Linked DNA regions of Homo sapiens: region 2 is linked to region 1. Evidence: fine-mapped expression QTL. Tissue or cell type: whole blood. Region 1 holds a variant in brackets; the other region holds the start of a gene. All regions are shown on one strand. Distances are between the middles of the regions.

Evidence for each region. PIP is the estimated chance that this variant, and not a neighbour inherited with it, causes the effect.
Region 2: BEST1 starts here. The variant in region 1 is fine-mapped to the expression of BEST1 in whole blood (TOPMed, PIP above 0.99).

The regions. Positions count from the first base shown.
Region 1 is chr11:61,979,177-61,987,437 of GRCh38, forward strand. No RefSeq gene overlaps it. Among named protein-coding and RNA genes, the nearest start is that of FTH1, 16 kb to the left of the region's middle. The variant T/C (reference allele first, on the strand shown) is at 3,118.
Region 2 is chr11:61,947,272-61,955,271 of GRCh38, forward strand. BEST1 (bestrophin 1) reads left to right here and starts at 3,080. Exons shown (of 11, transcript NM_004183.4): 1 at 3,080-3,156; 2 at 4,500-4,687; 3 at 7,836-7,930. The coding sequence starts at 4,536. It overlaps LOC107984334 (a long non-coding RNA gene), which reads right to left. Exons shown (of 2, transcript XR_001748245.2): 2 at 6,648-8,000.

The DNA of each region.
Region 1 (8,261 bases):
CCTGCCTCTGCCGAGAAGTCTTCCTGGATTCAGAGCTTGTCTCTTATTCCTGCTAATGTTTATTCCTTCGGCCTTTACTGAGTGACAGGAGGCCCTGTGCCATTGCATCATCATAGGGGAGGCTCGTAGGAAGGCATCATAGGAGGCTTGTAGGAAGCTGGTCTTCATCTCTGCTCCCAGGAATGGGACCAGGCCCTGGCACCTGGCAGGGCCTCAGCTAAGACTCTGGTTGGATGTGATTGAATCATCGTGAGAAAGGGGAATCCTTGCCCTGCTGGGGGGCGAAACGGGGGGTAAAGTTAGGACCCCCTGCCCTGCCCCATCTCACAAGCGTTGTGAAAAGGTCTTGAGCTTTGTCTGACTGGGTCTCGCTTGAGCCAGTACTGCCCCGTGAGAGATGGTTCTTTGCACTTAACTCCAGGTAACGGAGGGCCCATCCTGCAGTTTCCCCTTAAGAGCCTGGAATGGGAGCCTCGGGAGTTGGAACTGGTCTCTGGAGTTTGCCTTAAGCCCAACCAGCTTGGTCAGCTCTTTAGCCCAAAACTCCTGTATTCCAAGGGCAGGGGTCCTCAGGCCCAAGCTCCACCCAGCTGGGTGGGTTAGACTCAGACTCTTTTCTTAAAAATGAATCAAGTAAGAATAAAAACTAATACTTATTAATAAAAGCAGATACTTCTTGACCCCTTACTACATAGGCCAAACATGTCATTCGACAGATGAGGAAACTGAAGCACAGAACTACAAAGTACCTTGCCCAAGGACACACACCTGCTGTTCCAGTCCAGAGCCCACACTCTGAACCGCTCCTTGTCCCCACCCACTGCCCAGATCATTCGGCTCCATCCTGTTATCCACTTGTCATTCCACTGTTTGCCCATGGTGCCTCCCATATGGGGATTTAGTAAATGCTTATCAAATGGGGGTGCTTATTGAATTTGAGATTTCTGTTTGTTTACCAGGTTATCCCTAGCAAGGCATGGAGGGAATAAGGGGGAACAACAAAAATGCTGGATGCTGGGCTGGGCGCGGTGGCTCGCGCCTGTAATCCCAGCACTTTGAGAGGCTGAGGCGGGCGGATCACCTGAGGTCAGGAGTTTGAGACTAGACTGGCGAACATGGTGAAACCCCGTTTCTACTAAAAATACAAAATTAGACGTGGCGGCATGCACCTGTAACCCCAGCTACACGGGAGGCTGAGGCAGGAGAATCGCTTGAACCCACGAGGCGGAGGTTGCGGTGAGTTGAGATCGCACCATTGCACTGCACCCTGGGCAAAAAGAGTGAAACTCCGTCTCAAAAAAATAAATAAATAAAAATGCTGGATGCTGCAGCTCTGTCTTGCTGTGTGATCAGTCCTTGGCACAGATATCCCACCCGAGCCAGGCTTCTTGCATGTCCTTACTCTCTGCCGTTCCCAGGGAAGGAGGATATTTCTGAAAAGGTCCTGAATTTCAGATGGGCTGTCATCACTGTCAGTGTTAGGATGGAAGGGCTGAGTGCAGTTGCCTCCAGACCAACCCCTGTGAAAAATACTCCAGGGAAAATCGCTCTGGAGAGACATGGCTTCTGAGATGGTGCCCTGGGTGGATGGAGGAGAGAGCTGGGAGGTCTCACATCAGTCGGGATGATTTTGCTTTCAAGCAACAAAACCCAACCCACAATAGATTAAGCAACAAGGGGGATTTATTGACTTGTGGAGTTGAAAAGCCCAGACGAGGTGGACTTTAGACGTGGTTCCATCAGGGCTCGGGCCCCGTTTCTCTGTGATTCTCTCAGATCCGCTCCCATCCACCGGGCTTCATCCTCTGGCTGTCTTCCAGCATCCTCCAGAGCTGCAGGCTTCCTTCTTCCAGGGGTAAAGTTAGGACCCCCTGCCCTGCCGCATCTCACAAGCATTGTGAAAAGGTCTTGAGCTTTGTCTGACTGGGTCTTGCTTGAGCCAGTACTGCCTCTTGGAGTGTCTAAATCTTAATGGTTGTTTAAGCAAATTAAGGAAATGGAGTTGATGAGCACTTCTGAATGGCATTGGGCCCCAGGGCTCACTGGAGACAGGAAGAGTTTTTACCAATTGCTCTCTGCTCTCGCTTGCTGGTGTCTGATTTTACCAGAGTACAGTGACCTCAGCTGGGACACTCAGGCCTGCACCATTCAGACTTCAGAGCTGTATGTGGATCTGTGTGAAGACCTCTAGGAGCCCAGCACTCAGATTTGGGAGGCCCCACTGCACATCAGGGCAAACACGTTAAAACATGCCCACATTCCACATGCAGCATTGTAACCAAAACACAGGTTCAGTTGCCTGCCACTTGCAGAGTCCAAATAATAAGAGTGAGGTCTGGTATAAGTAAAGTGACTTTTTATTTCAAAACTAGCTTAGGGGAAGAGGTACAGGCTTCTTACCTTAAGAGTACCACCTTGGGGCTGGGCGAGGTGGCTCAAGCCTGTAATCCCAGCACTTTGGGAGGCCAAGGCGGGTGGATCATCTTGGTCGGGAGTTCAAGACCAGCCTGACCAACATGGAGAAACCCCTTCTCTACTAAAAATACAAAATTAACCAGGCGTAGTGGCGCATGCCTGTAATCCCAGCTACTCGGGAGGCTGAGACAGGAGAGTCACATGAACCCAGGAGGCGGAGGTTGTGGTGAGCTGAGATCACGCCATTGCACTCCAGCCTGGCCCACAAGAGAAAAACTCTGTTTCAAAAACAATCAAAGCAAAACAAAGCAAAAACAAAAAAGGCTACCACTTTGGGCTGGGCGCAGTGGCTCATGCCTGTAATCCCAGCACTTTGGGAGGCACAGGCAGGCAGATCACCTGAGGTCAGGAGTTCGAGACAGCCTGGCCAACATGGTGAAACCCTATCTCTACTAAAAATACAAAAATTAGCCAGGCATGGTGGCAGGTGCCTATAATCCCAGCTACCCAGGAGGCTGAGGCAGGAGAATCACTTGAACCCAGGAGGCAGAGGTTGCTGTGAGCTGAGATCATGCCACTGTACTCAGTCTGGGCAACACAGCAAGACTCCTTCTAAAAAAAAAAAAAAGAGTATCACTTCACTTTTGGCGTGGAAGGTGGGTACTTTTAAAGGGTGCCTGGCACACAGACATGAATGGCACA[T/C]GGGAGGAAGCAGGCAGGTGGGGGGCTGTGTACTTGCTTTGGTGCCTTATCTACCAGGTGGCCGAGAGTTGGCGTCTTTGAGGACAGAACTGGGTTGTGAAGGTGGCCAAAACTCTCCAGGTGGGAGAGAGTTTCATAGCAGGCATGCTTTGGGTTGTAAATGGACTGTTGTCTCTCAAGGCAGTCCCCTGGTGGGACAGAGTTCCACCCTGGAGCTTCTAAGCACGAAGTTAGATAAACTTGCCCTGTAGGGAGTGTCTGGTGAAGGGAAAGTGAAAGGTTATAACTGCATTTCTAAAGGGACAAGTGGGATGTAGATAATAGGGAAATAGAGGAAAGAGAAGAGAAAAAATAATTAAAAATAACTCCTTCTTGCTTCCTTCCTCTCTCTCTGTCTTTCTTCTTTCTTTGTTTTTTTTTTTTTTTTTTTTTAGATGGAGTCTCGCTCTGTTGCCCAGGCTGGAGTGCAGTGGCACAATCTTGGCTCACTGCAAGCTCCGCCTCCCGGATTCACGCCGTTCTTCTGTCTCAGCCTCCCAAGTAGCTGGGACTACAGGCGCCTGCCACCACGCCCACCTAATTTTTTGTATTTTTAGTAGAGACGGGGTTTCACCATTTTAGCCAGGATGATCTCAATCTCCTGACCTCGTGATCCGCCTGCTTCGGCCTCCCAAAGTGCTGGGATTACAGGCGTGAGCCACCGTGCCTGGCTTTTCTTTCTTTTTTTTTTTCTGACAGAGTTTCACTCTCGTTCCCCAGGCTGGAGTGCAATGGCGTGATCTTGGCTCACTGCAACCTCTGCCTCCTGGGTTAAGTGATTCTCCTGCCTCAGCCTCCCAAGTAGCTGGGATTACAGGCGAATGCCGCCACACCCAGCTAATTTTTGTATTTTAAGTAGAGACGGAGTTTCACCATGTTGGCCAGGCTGGTCTCGAACTGCTGACCTTAGGTGATCCACCCACCTCGGCCTCCCAAAGTGCTGGGATTACAGGTGTGAGCCACTGCACCTGGCTTCCATTCTCTTTTTCATAGAAAAATGGGGGCACTTGGTTATAAGCGAAAAATAAGTAAAGAAGACCTGAGCTCAACTGCAGATGACAGCTTTACAGCTCATAAACATTTACTTTTATTAATTTTGCTGTTTTCTTTTTAAATTTAGGAGCCAGTACATTTTCTTGGACCCTTGTAAAGCTCATAGGCACTAGGCCTGGGCCTGTCTTGCCTAATAGAGAAATCTGCCTGTTTGAGGGCAGTGATGGTGATTTGTGTGTGTGTCCCTGAAGGAACACCAGGCCTGGAGCCAGGACTGTGGAAGCTGGTCCCAGCTCTGCCATTAACTAGCTGGGTGACCTTGGACAAGCTGCCAACTTCTCTGGACCTCTGTGTAGTCACTTGTCAATTGGAGATAATGTCACCTCTATTTCTCCCCTGTGTTCTTTGCTGAAGGGGCATTTCTTCCAGCTGGGGAGACTGGAGGGGCTTAACTGAGTCTTGCCATTGAGCCGAGTAAACCCAATTTCTTTGGGATCCATTTGACACTGGTTGGCTGCCCACTCTAAGCCAAGCTTGCAGCCAAGCTCTGGAGGAGTAGAGATGGCTAAGCCAGAGCTTGTGTTCACAGTAGCCCAGAAAGATAGGCTCAGCAGAGACGTGTGGAAGGGGCACAGTGGGATTCAGATGAGCAGCCTGAGAGCCTGAAAGAGCCATGGAAGAGCCTGCCAATGGAAGTGCCCTTTCCTTGCTAAGGAAGGTAAAATACCCAAACCAAGTCAATTCAGCAATGATCCTGGGGTGCAAGAGTGAAAGGGCCAGGGGCTGTAGCTGCCTCTTAGCCTCAGTGTGGTGACTCCCTTCTGTTATTTTTTTTTTTTTTTTTCCTTTTTTGAGACAGGGTTTAGCTCTGTCACTCAGGCTGGAGTGCAGTGGCACATACATGGCTCACTGCAACCTCGACCTTCTGGGCTCAAGCAATCCTCCCACCTCAGCCTCCTGAGTAGCTGGGACTATAGGTGTGTGCCACCACACCTGGCTAACTATTTTTATTTTTTTATTTTTGAGATGGAGTTTCGCTCTTGTTGTTCAGGCTGGAGCGCAGTGGCGCGATCTTGGCTCACCGCAACCTCTGCCTCCCGGTCAAGTGATTCTCCTCCCTCAGCCTCCCGAGTAGCTGGGATTATAGGCATGTGCCACCACGCCTGGCTAATTTTGTATTTTTAGTAGAGACGGGGTTTCTCCATGTTGGTCAGGTGATCTGCCCATCTCTGCCTCCCAAAGTGCTGGGATTACAGGCATGAGCCACCGCGCCTGGCCTCTTTTTTGATTTTTAGTAGAGAAGAGGTGTTTCCATATTGCCCAGGCTGTTCTTGAACTGCTGGGCTCAAGCAATCCTGCCGCCTTGGCCTCCCAAAGTGTTGGGATTATAGGCGTGAGCCACTGCACCAGCCCTCTCTTAACAACTTTTAAGTGTACGTCACAATATTGCTAACTATATGTACATTGTTGTACGAGAGTTCTCCCAGACTTTTTTCTCTTCCATGGCTGAAACTCCATCCCGTTGAGCAACAACTCCCCATTTCCCCTCCCCTCAGCTCCTGGAAACCACCATTCTGCTTTCTGTCTCTATGAATTTGATTACTTTAGGTACTTCTTATAAGTGGAATCATGCAATATTTCCCCTTTTGTGATTGGCTTATTTCATTTAGCATGATGTCTTCAGGGTTATCGTTGGTATAGTATATGACAGGATTTCTGGTTCTTAAAAAAGACTGAATGACATTTCATTGTATGTATATACTACGTTTTTTAAATCCATTCATCCATCCACAGAAATTTAGGTTGCTTCCACATCGTGGCTATTGTGGATAATGTCATAATGAACATGGGGATGCAGATATCTCTTTGAGATCCTGTTTTTTATTCTTTAGGATATATACTCAGAAGTGGGATTGCAGTATCATATGGTAGTTCTATTTTTAATTTTTTGAGGAGCCTCCATATCATTTTTCATAGCAGTACACCATTTTACAATCCTACCAACAGTTTGCAAGAGTTCCAGTTTTTCCGCATCCTCACTGACACTTGATAATTTTTTTTTTTTTTTTTTTTTTTTTAGACAGAGTGTCGCACTGTTGCCTGGGCTGGAGTGCAGTGGCTCGGTCTCAGCTCACTGCAACCTCCACCTCCCGGGTTCAAGTGATTCTCCTGCCTCAGCCTCCCAAGTAGCTGGGATTACAGCCACCCACCACCACACCCACCTGATTTTTTTTTTTTTTGTAGTTTTAGTAGAGACAGGGTTTCACTATGTTGGCCAGGCTGGTCTCAAACTGCTGACCTCATAATCTGCCGAACTGGTAATCTGCCCGCCTCGGCCTCCCAAAGTGCTGGGATTACAGGCGTGAGCCACTGCACCCAGCCCACTTTTTGTTTTTTTGATAGTAGCTATTCCAATGGGCATAAGGTGATAGCTCATTGTGGTTTTGATTTGCAATTCCCTGGTGATTAGTGAACATCTTTTCATACGCTTGAAAAAAAAGACGGTGAGCATCTTTTCATATGCTTTTTGGCCTGACTGTTAAAAGAAAAACAAACAAACGGAAAGAAAAAACAAAAACAGCATCAACAAAAAAGTCCCCACGCAAACCCCATCCAAAGGTCAGCAGCCTTGAAGCTCGAAGCTAGATAAACTCATGAAGATGAGAAAAAAATCAATGAAAAATTGCTGAAAACTCAAAAGAGCCAGAGTGCTTCTTCTCCTACAAATGATTGCAACACCTCTCCAGCAAGGGCTCAGAACTAGGCTGAGGCTGAGACGGATGAACTGACAGAAGTGGCCTTTAGAAGGTGAGTAAGAACAAACTTCGCTGAGCTGAAGGAGCATGTTCTAACCCAATGCAAAGAAGATAAGAACCATGACAAAACATTACAGGAGCCCTTAACCAGAAAAACCAGTTTAGAGAGGAACATAAATGACCTGATGGAGCTGAAAAATACAACATGAGAACTTCACAGTGCAACCACCAGTATCAATAGCTGAATACACCAAGCGGAGGAAAGAATTTCAGAGCTTAAGACTAACTTGCTAAAGTAAGACAGTCAGAAAAGATGAGAGAAAAAAAGAATGAAAAGGAACAAACAAAACCTCTGAGAACTATGGGATTATGTAAAAAGACTGAACTTACAAATGATTAGGGTACCTGAAAGAGACGGGAGAATGGAACCAAGCTGGAAAACATATTTCAGGATATCTTGCAGGAGAACTTCCCCACCCTAGCAAGGCAGGCCAACATTCAAATTCAGGAAATCCAGATAACCCCAGTAAGATACTCCACGAGAAGATCAACCCCAAGACACATAATCATCAGATTCTCCAAGGTCAAAATAAAGGTTAAGGGCAGCCAGAGAGAAAGGCCAGGTCACCTCAAAGGGAAGCCCATCAGACTAACAGTGGACCTCTCAGTGGAAACCCTACAAGCCAGAAGAGATTGGGGCCAATATTCAACATTTTTAAATAAAAGAATTTTCCAACCCAGAATTTCATATCCTGCCAAACTAAGCTTTATAAGTGAAGGAGAAATAAAATCCTTTTCAGACAAGCAAATGCTGAGGTAATTCATCACCACCAGGCCTGCTTTGCAAGAGCTCCTGAAGGAAGCACTAACATGAAGGAAAAACCCATTACCAACCACTACAAAAACACACTGAAATACAAAGACCAATGAAACTATGAAGCAACTACATCAGCAAGTCTGCAAAATAACCAGCTAGCATCATGATGACAGGATCAAATTCACACAATCTTAAATGTAAATGGGCTAAATGCCCCAATTAAAAGACACAGAACAGCAAGCTGGATAGAGTTAAGACCCATAGGTATGCTGTATTCAAGAGACCCATCTGACGTGCAAAGACACACAGGCTCAAAATAAAGGGATGGAGGAAAATTTACGAAGCAAACAGAAAGCAGAAAAAAGTAAGGGAGGAAAATTTACCAAGCAAACGGAATGCAGAAAAAAAGCAAGGGTTGCAATCCTAGTTTTTGACAAAACAGAGTTTAAACCAACAAAGATAAAAAAAAAAAAAAAAAGACAAGGACATTACATAATGGTAAACGGTTCAATTTAATAAGAATAGCTAACTATCCAGAA
Region 2 (8,000 bases), 32 kb before region 1:
GAGAAATGGTTTGGCGAATATTTTCTTTGCGGAACGGAAAGCAGAAGAGGGCGACCTTGACTGGGTTGGGTGCCATCTCTGCAGGGGTCAATCCTGGGACTCTTGTTCCAGGCATGGCTTGGGTCAATCAGCACTCATGACTTTGCTGTGTGCCTGAGCCGTGCCTGGCTAACTGGGGACATTTTCATAGCTGAGACCCAGTAGGAGAGACCATGACTTGTGCCAGGGTGTGCCTGTCTCAGCTCTGGGGCAGGGCCAGGAGCAGCTGCTCATGGGATGTCTCTGGGGACATGCTGGGGCCTCTGGGAGGGGAAGGGAGACTGGCCATGCACTGTCTATGGTCCTGGTGGTACTCCTGGGATATTGCCAAGGAGCCTGCGGTTCAGGGAACAGGGAGGAGGGACTCTAGTGTCTCCAACTCCCTCTCATGGCTCTATGGCTGCTGGTCGGGGTCAGGGAGATGAAGCAGTGCCAGCTCCGTGGTCTGCACTGATCCTGACCAGTGAACCAGGCTTCCCCAGCCAGAGCCAGCTAGTCAAGCACGCTCTCTAGTGGCCACCACAGGGAAGGCAAGAACTTGTCTCCACAAAGGCAGGATTTTCATTTATTCCTTCAGAGAGTACAGAATGAGCATCAATGTTCCAGGCATGGTGCCAGGCATGTGTGTTAACTTTAGTTAAAACATACTTATTGGCCGAGTGTGGCGGCTCACTCCTGTAATCCCACCACTTTGGGAGGCCTAGGTGGGAGGACTGCTTGAACTTAGAGCTCAATACCAGCCTGGGTAATGTAGTGAGACCCTATCTCTATAAAAAAAAAAAAAATAGCTGGGTGTGGTGGTGTGCGTCTGTAGTCCCAGCGACTTGGGAGGCTGAGATGGGAGGATTGCTTGAGCCTGGGAAGTGGAGGTTGCAATGAGCCAAAATCACACCCATTGCACTCCAGCCTGGGTGACCTTGTCTCAAAAATATAGTTATATATTTACTTATATATTTATATGTATAAATATATGTGTACATACAAATATATTTGTAATATTATAGACATATTAATACATATTTACATATGTTAATATATAAATATATATAATATATATTTATCATCTTCTAAATGGAAAGCTCTTGAGTTTCAGGATGTGTTGGTTGGGAAGGGAATACAGGATAGGGAAATAATCCATTAAGCAATGACTCAGCACAGGCCATAAAATCAGAATCACCTGGAGAACTTGAACAATCCCAACACCTGGGGTCCATCCAGACCAATCAAATCAGAATTCGTAGGGGTCAGGCACAGGCACCAGTGGTTTGGAGAGTTGACGGACACATGTCCCATCCATCATTCTCATTCGGCTGCCAAGGTAGGCATCGTTGTCCCATTTTGCATATGAGGAGACTGAGGCTGAAGTGAACCTGCTTCTTTCCCCATATCAGTTGAGGACAGCGATGGGGCAGCGGGGAGGCAGTAAATACTCCTACAAGGCTGCCTCTAAAGAGAGTCTTATAATAACAACAGCTTTATTGTTTGCCATGATTAGAAAAGTATTCAAGGTCATTGCGAAATAGTGTTTTTTTTTCTAGGCAGATAATTATATAAAGGCAAAAATGGTGTGTGGGGGTGGGGGACAAGGGGAGGGAGAGCATTAGGACAAATACCTAATGCACGCAAGGCTTAAAACCTAGATGATGGGTTGACAGGTGCAGCAAACCACCATGGCACACGTATACCTATGTAACAAACCTGCACATCATGTATACCTATGTAACAAACCTGTACATTCTGCACACGTATCCCAGAACTTAAAGTGAAAAAAAAAGTGGTGTGTAGAAAAATCACCTGCAATCTCAGCATAGTTAACGCTTAGTACATTTCAGAGAGAGAGGGTGACAGGAAAGGGAGGATGAGAGTGGGTTTAAGACACAAGGTCATATTATAAAATCAGGGCTTCTGGAAGTTTAGTCCCAAAACCACACATCTCATAATCCCCTGCAGTGCTTGATTAAAATGCAACATCCCTAAGGCCACAGACTCAGACTCTGGAGAAAGATCCAGAAAACTGCCCGTTTAATAAACATTTGGGCGATTCTTACGGCCTCTAAAGACCAAGAACCACTGCTGCCTAGAGCTCTGCTCTCTTCATTGAACAATACAAGAGGAGTGTGTAGGTAGACACCCACCACTTCCAACAGCTTAGGAGAGCCCTTGAGTATGGATTGATGTATTAAAATTTATTGAATCACATGCTGAGATTTTCACCAGCTGCCCGTGGGGATCTGGGCATTTATTCCCATATTGCACTGGCTGGCTGGAAGCCAGCAGCATAAACTCCAGGGCTGTTCTGTCAACCCCCACCAGACTCACCCCCCTCCACCAGCCCCGGCAGGCTTCTCCTTCCATCTCTCTGAAGCAACTTACTGATGGGCCCTGCCAGCCAATCACAGCCAGAATAACGTATGATGTCACCAGCAGCCAATCAGAGCTCCTCGTCAGCATATGCAGAATTCTGTCATTTTACTAGGGTGATGAAATTCCCAAGCAACACCATCCTTTTCAGATAAGGGCACTGAGGCTGAGAGAGGAGCTGAAACCTACCCGGGGTCACCACACACAGGTGGCAAGGCTGGGACCAGAAACCAGGACTGTTGACTGCAGCCCGGTATTCATTCTTTCCATAGCCCACAGGGCTGTCAAAGACCCCAGGGCCTAGTCAGAGGCTCCTCCTTCCTGGAGAGTTCCTGGCACAGAAGTTGAAGCTCAGCACAGCCCCCTAACCCCCAACTCTCTCTGCAAGGCCTCAGGGGTCAGAACACTGGTGGAGCAGATCCTTTAGCCTCTGGATTTTAGGGCCATGGTAGAGGGGGTGTTGCCCTAAATTCCAGCCCTGGTCTCAGCCCAACACCCTCCAAGAAGAAATTAGAGGGGCCATGGCCAGGCTGTGCTAGCCGTTGCTTCTGAGCAGATTACAAGAAGGGACTAAGACAAGGACTCCTTTGTGGAGGTCCTGGCTTAGGGAGTCAAGTGACGGCGGCTCAGCACTCACGTGGGCAGTGCCAGCCTCTAAGAGTGGGCAGGGGCACTGGCCACAGAGTCCCAGGGAGTCCCACCAGCCTAGTCGCCAGACCTTCTGTGGGATCATCGGACCCACCTGGAACCCCACCTGTGAGTACAAGGTGCCCCAGGTGGACTGGGCTGGGGCTTTGAGGCCTTCAGGGTTGGATGGCCATCTTGCGTATTTGTGTGGGATATGCACACACAGGCAGCACATGCGCAGGTGTGTGGGCACCTGTGTGTCTGTGCAAATGCCCTGAGGTGGGAATGAGCTTGGTGTGCATCAGGCACAGCCAGCCAGTGTGGCTGCAGCAAAACACACAGGGAAAGAATGGAGGGGGCATCAATCACTGCTTCAGTAAATTTTTATTGAGCGCCTTCTACGAGAACACAAGAGGAGCTTCCATTCTGAGGAGGAAACAGGCAGGAAACAGGCAGATATCCTGTATAATTTCAAGTAGTGATAAGTGCTCTCTAGAAATATCAAGCAAGGTGAGGAGACACAGAGCACCGGTGGCAGTGGGGCTCTATTTCCAGGTTGGATGGTTGGGAACATCCTTTCTAAAGGGAACCTGGAGTGGGAAGGAACCATGCAGGTATCTCAGGAAGAGCTTCCTCCAGGCAGGAAGATCAGCAGGTGGAAAGGCCCTGGAGCCACCATTCAGTAAACATCATTTGAGCATCTCTACCAGCTAGGTTCCATTATGGGAATGGGAATATGGTGGTGGACAGGGCTGCCTGGTCCCTTCCATACTTCTCACACTAGGGTGGTTGAGAGAGCTTGGGAGCTAACGAACAAGATGGGCTGAGAACACTGCCTAGCCCAGAGGACCTGAGCTTAGTGTGTAGACATTGCTGCTGTTACTGCCTTTGTCATTGTATTATTTATTTATTTATTTATTTATTTTTAGACAGAGTTTTGCTCTTCTTACCCAGGCTGGAGTGCAATGGCGTGATCTCAGCTCACTGCAACCTCCACCTCCTGGGTTCAAGCGATTCTCCTGCCTCAGCCTCCTGAGTAGCTGGGATTACAGGCACCCGCACCACGCCTGGATAATTTTTTTGTATTTTTAGTAGAGACAGGGTTTCACCATGTTGGCCAGGCTGGTCTCGAACTCCTGACCTTAGGTGATCCACCTGCCTCGACTTCCCAAAGTGCTGGGATTATAGGCATGAGCCACTGCGCCCAGTGATTATAGAAAGTTAAAGGCACATGGCAATGCACACGCCTATCTACGTCTTCCCTGCCAAAGCAAAGGGCAGCCTCTGGGCTCACTTTCTTGCGTTTCTACTTCCAAAAGGCAGTCAGAACTGGCAGGGCCTTGGAGACCACTTCATCCACCTCCTAGGGTCCCTATGGGAGAGTTGAGGTCCAGAGCAGGGAAGGGTCCTGACAGGCTCTGACCAGGGCCTCTGATCCCTACAAACCCCCAATCGGTGTCCCTCTCTACCAGGACCCAAGCCCACCTGCTGCAGCCCACTGCCTGGCCATGACCATCACTTACACAAGCCAAGTGGCTAATGCCCGCTTAGGCTCCTTCTCCCGCCTGCTGCTGTGCTGGCGGGGCAGCATCTACAAGCTGCTATATGGCGAGTTCTTAATCTTCCTGCTCTGCTACTACATCATCCGCTTTATTTATAGGTAAAGCTGGCAGGGCTGGGCCGGGGGGCCTGGGAAGGATGTGGCTGGGGCTGGGAGCTCCTGGGGGCCTCCCAGCCAGCTCAGGGGCCAGTGTACCAGTTCACTACAAGACTAAGCTGAGCTCCTGACCAGGTCCTGGGCACTGGAGCTGAGGCTGGGGCTGGGGGCTGGGGAGAGAAAAGAAGTCAGACTGAGAGGCTGCTCAAGCCAGGCCAGCAGGGTTTTAGCCACCCTTCCTCCAACCCCAGGAGGACCCCTGGAGCCCAGGCTTTGTCTGGCCCCACTCAACTGGCCTGTTTTACTGAATCCCACACAGACTCATAGGCCCACATAGTACATTAAAAAAGAGAGAGAGAGAGAGAGAGAGAGAGAGAGATGGAGTCTCACTGTGTTGTCCAGGCTGGTCTCGAACTCCTAGGCTCAAGCAATCCCCCTGCCTTAGCCTCCCAAGGGGCTGGGATTACAGGTGTGAGCTACTGCACTTGACCAACCACATGGTACTTTTTTTTTTTTTTTTTTTTTTTTGAGACAGGGTTTCACTCCATCACCCAGGCTGGAGTGCAGTGGGGGCAATCTTGGCTCACTGTAACCTCTGCCTCCCAGGTGCAAGCGATTCTCCTGCCTTAGCCTCCTGAGTAGCTGGAATTATAGGCACACACCACCACGCCTGGCTAATTTTTTTTTTTTTCTGTATTTTTAGTAGAGACAGGGTTTCATCATGTTGGCCAGGCTGGTCTTGAACCCCTGACCTCAAGTGATCCACCCACCTCGGCCTCCCAAAGTGCTGGGATTACAGGTGTCAGCCACCATGCACAGCCCACATGGTACATTTTTTAAAATTATTTTTTAATTAAAATGTTTATCTAAGGCCAGTAGCAGTGACTCGCGTCTGTAATCCCAGCACTTTGAGGGGCCAAGGTGCGGGGATCACTTGAGCCTGGGAGTTCAGCGTGGGCAACATAGTGAGACCCCGTCTCTACCAAAAATTTAAAAAATTAGCTGGGAGTGGTGGCATTTGCCTGTGGTCCCAGCTACTTGGGAAGCTGAGGTGTGGGGATGGCTGAAGCCTGTGAGGTCGAGGCTGCAGTGAGCTATGATCACACCACTGCACTTCAGCCTGAGTGACAGGCTATCTCAAAAGCAAACAAAATAATGTTTATCTAAACAATAAAATATAATCACAGAATATATGATAGCATTTTAAATTGAAAAAGCATTAATGATTACATGGATTGTAAAATATCAAATACATGAAATTCTTGTGTTCTTAATAATGCTAGCAACAAGGCACATTTGGTTTTTACTAGGGCACCAAGGTACTTTAAAAAAAGTTAGGGCCAGCCACAGGGGCTCACACCTGTAATCCCAGCACTTTGGGAGGCCAAGGCAGGAGGATCACTTGAGCCCAGGAGTTTAGGACCTGAGCAACATAGGGAGATCCTGATCCTGTCTCTATAAAAAATTAAAAAATTGGCTAGGCCCTTTGGCTTACACCCGTAATCCCAGCACTTTGGGAGGCCGAGGCGGGTGGATCATGAGGTCAGGAGTTCAAGACCAGCCTGGCCAACATAGTGAACCCAATCTCTACTAAAAATACAAAAATTAGCCGAGTGGGGTGGCACGCACCTGTAGTTCCAGCTACTCAGGAGGATGAGGCCGGAGAATCGCTTGAGCCCGGGAGGCAGAGGTTGCAGTGAGCCGAGACCATGCCATTGCACTCCAGCCTAGGTGACAGAGTGAGACTCCGTCTAAAAATAAAATAAAAATCAAAAAATGATCTGGGCATGGTGGCTTATGCCTGTAGTCCCACCCAGCTCCTCAGGAGGCTGAAGCGGGAGGATTGCTTGAGCCCAGGAGGTTGAGGCTGCAGTGAGTCATGACTGTGCCACTGCCCTTGAGCCTGGGTAACAGAGCAAGACCCTATCTCAAAACAAACAAACAAACAAACAAACAAACAAAAACCAATAAACCAAAAACATTTATCTAAACAATAAAATAAAGGACAGATATAATCACCGAATATATGATAGCATTTTAAATTGAAAAAGCACTAATGACTACAATGGATTATAAAACATCAAATACATAAAATTCTTAAGTTCCTCCTAATACCAAATACAAAGCACATTGGTCTTTGGTTTTTACTTGGGCACTAATGCATGCTGAAAAAGAGTCAGACTTCATTTTTTAGAGTAGTTTTAGGTTCACAGCAAAATTGAGCAGAAGGTAGAGTTCTCATGTGTCTCTTTGCTCCTCCCCCTGCCCCCAGCCTCCCCACTATCAACACCCCCACACTACAGTGGTAGATTTATTACAATCCCTGAACCCACAGTGACACATCACTATCACCCAAAGTTCATAGCGTACAGCAGGGTTCACTCTTGGGCTGTACATTCCATGGGTTTGGATAAATGTGTAATGATGTCTCCACCATCACAGCATCAGGCAGAGTAGTTTCACTGCTCTAACAAAATCCTCTGCCTATTCACCCCTCTCATTAAAGCCAAACACTCTGTTTCTTTTTTTCTTTTTAGAGACAGTGTCTCGCTCTGTCACCCAGGCTGAAGTGCAATGGCAATCACAGCCCATTGCAGCCTCCAACTCCTGGGCTGAAGTGATCCTCCTATCTCAGCCTCCAGTGGCTACGACTGCAGGCATACGGCAACGGCACCCAACTAATTTTTTGTAGAGATAGGGTCTTGCTATGTTGCCCAGGCTGGTCTTGAACTCTTGGTCCTGCCTTAGCCTCCCAGAGCTCTGGGATTACAGGCGTGAACCACCGTGCCCGTCCCAAACACTCTGTTTCGACCTGCTTTTAAACAACTGACCCTTGGCTGCATTCAAAGGATCAGGGTGTCTGAAACTGGCCTCTGCAGCAGGACCTTCCTTCCTACACATCTCCCAGTGGCCAGTGTGAGGATTCTCCCCACAAGAAACCACTGGAGGGGGCCTCCTCCTGTCCGGGTTTGGGGCTGTACAAGGAGCATCATGGACCTGGCTCAGGCCTCAGGAGGGGCCCTGGGCTGGGGAAAATGTGGGATAGCATCGAGGCAGTCCCACTCCTACCCAGGGCCGGGCTAGACCTGGGGACAGTCTCAGCCATCTCCTCGCTGCGTCCACACAATTCCACCCCCACCCCCACCCCCAGGCTGGCCCTCACGGAAGAACAACAGCTGATGTTTGAGAAACTGACTCTGTATTGCGACAGCTACATCCAGCTCATCCCCATTTCCTTCGTGCTGGGTGAGTTCCCCCTTCTGGCTGTTCCGGGTCCCTGTGGCCGCCCAGGCTCCAGACAGGCCAGGGGAGGATC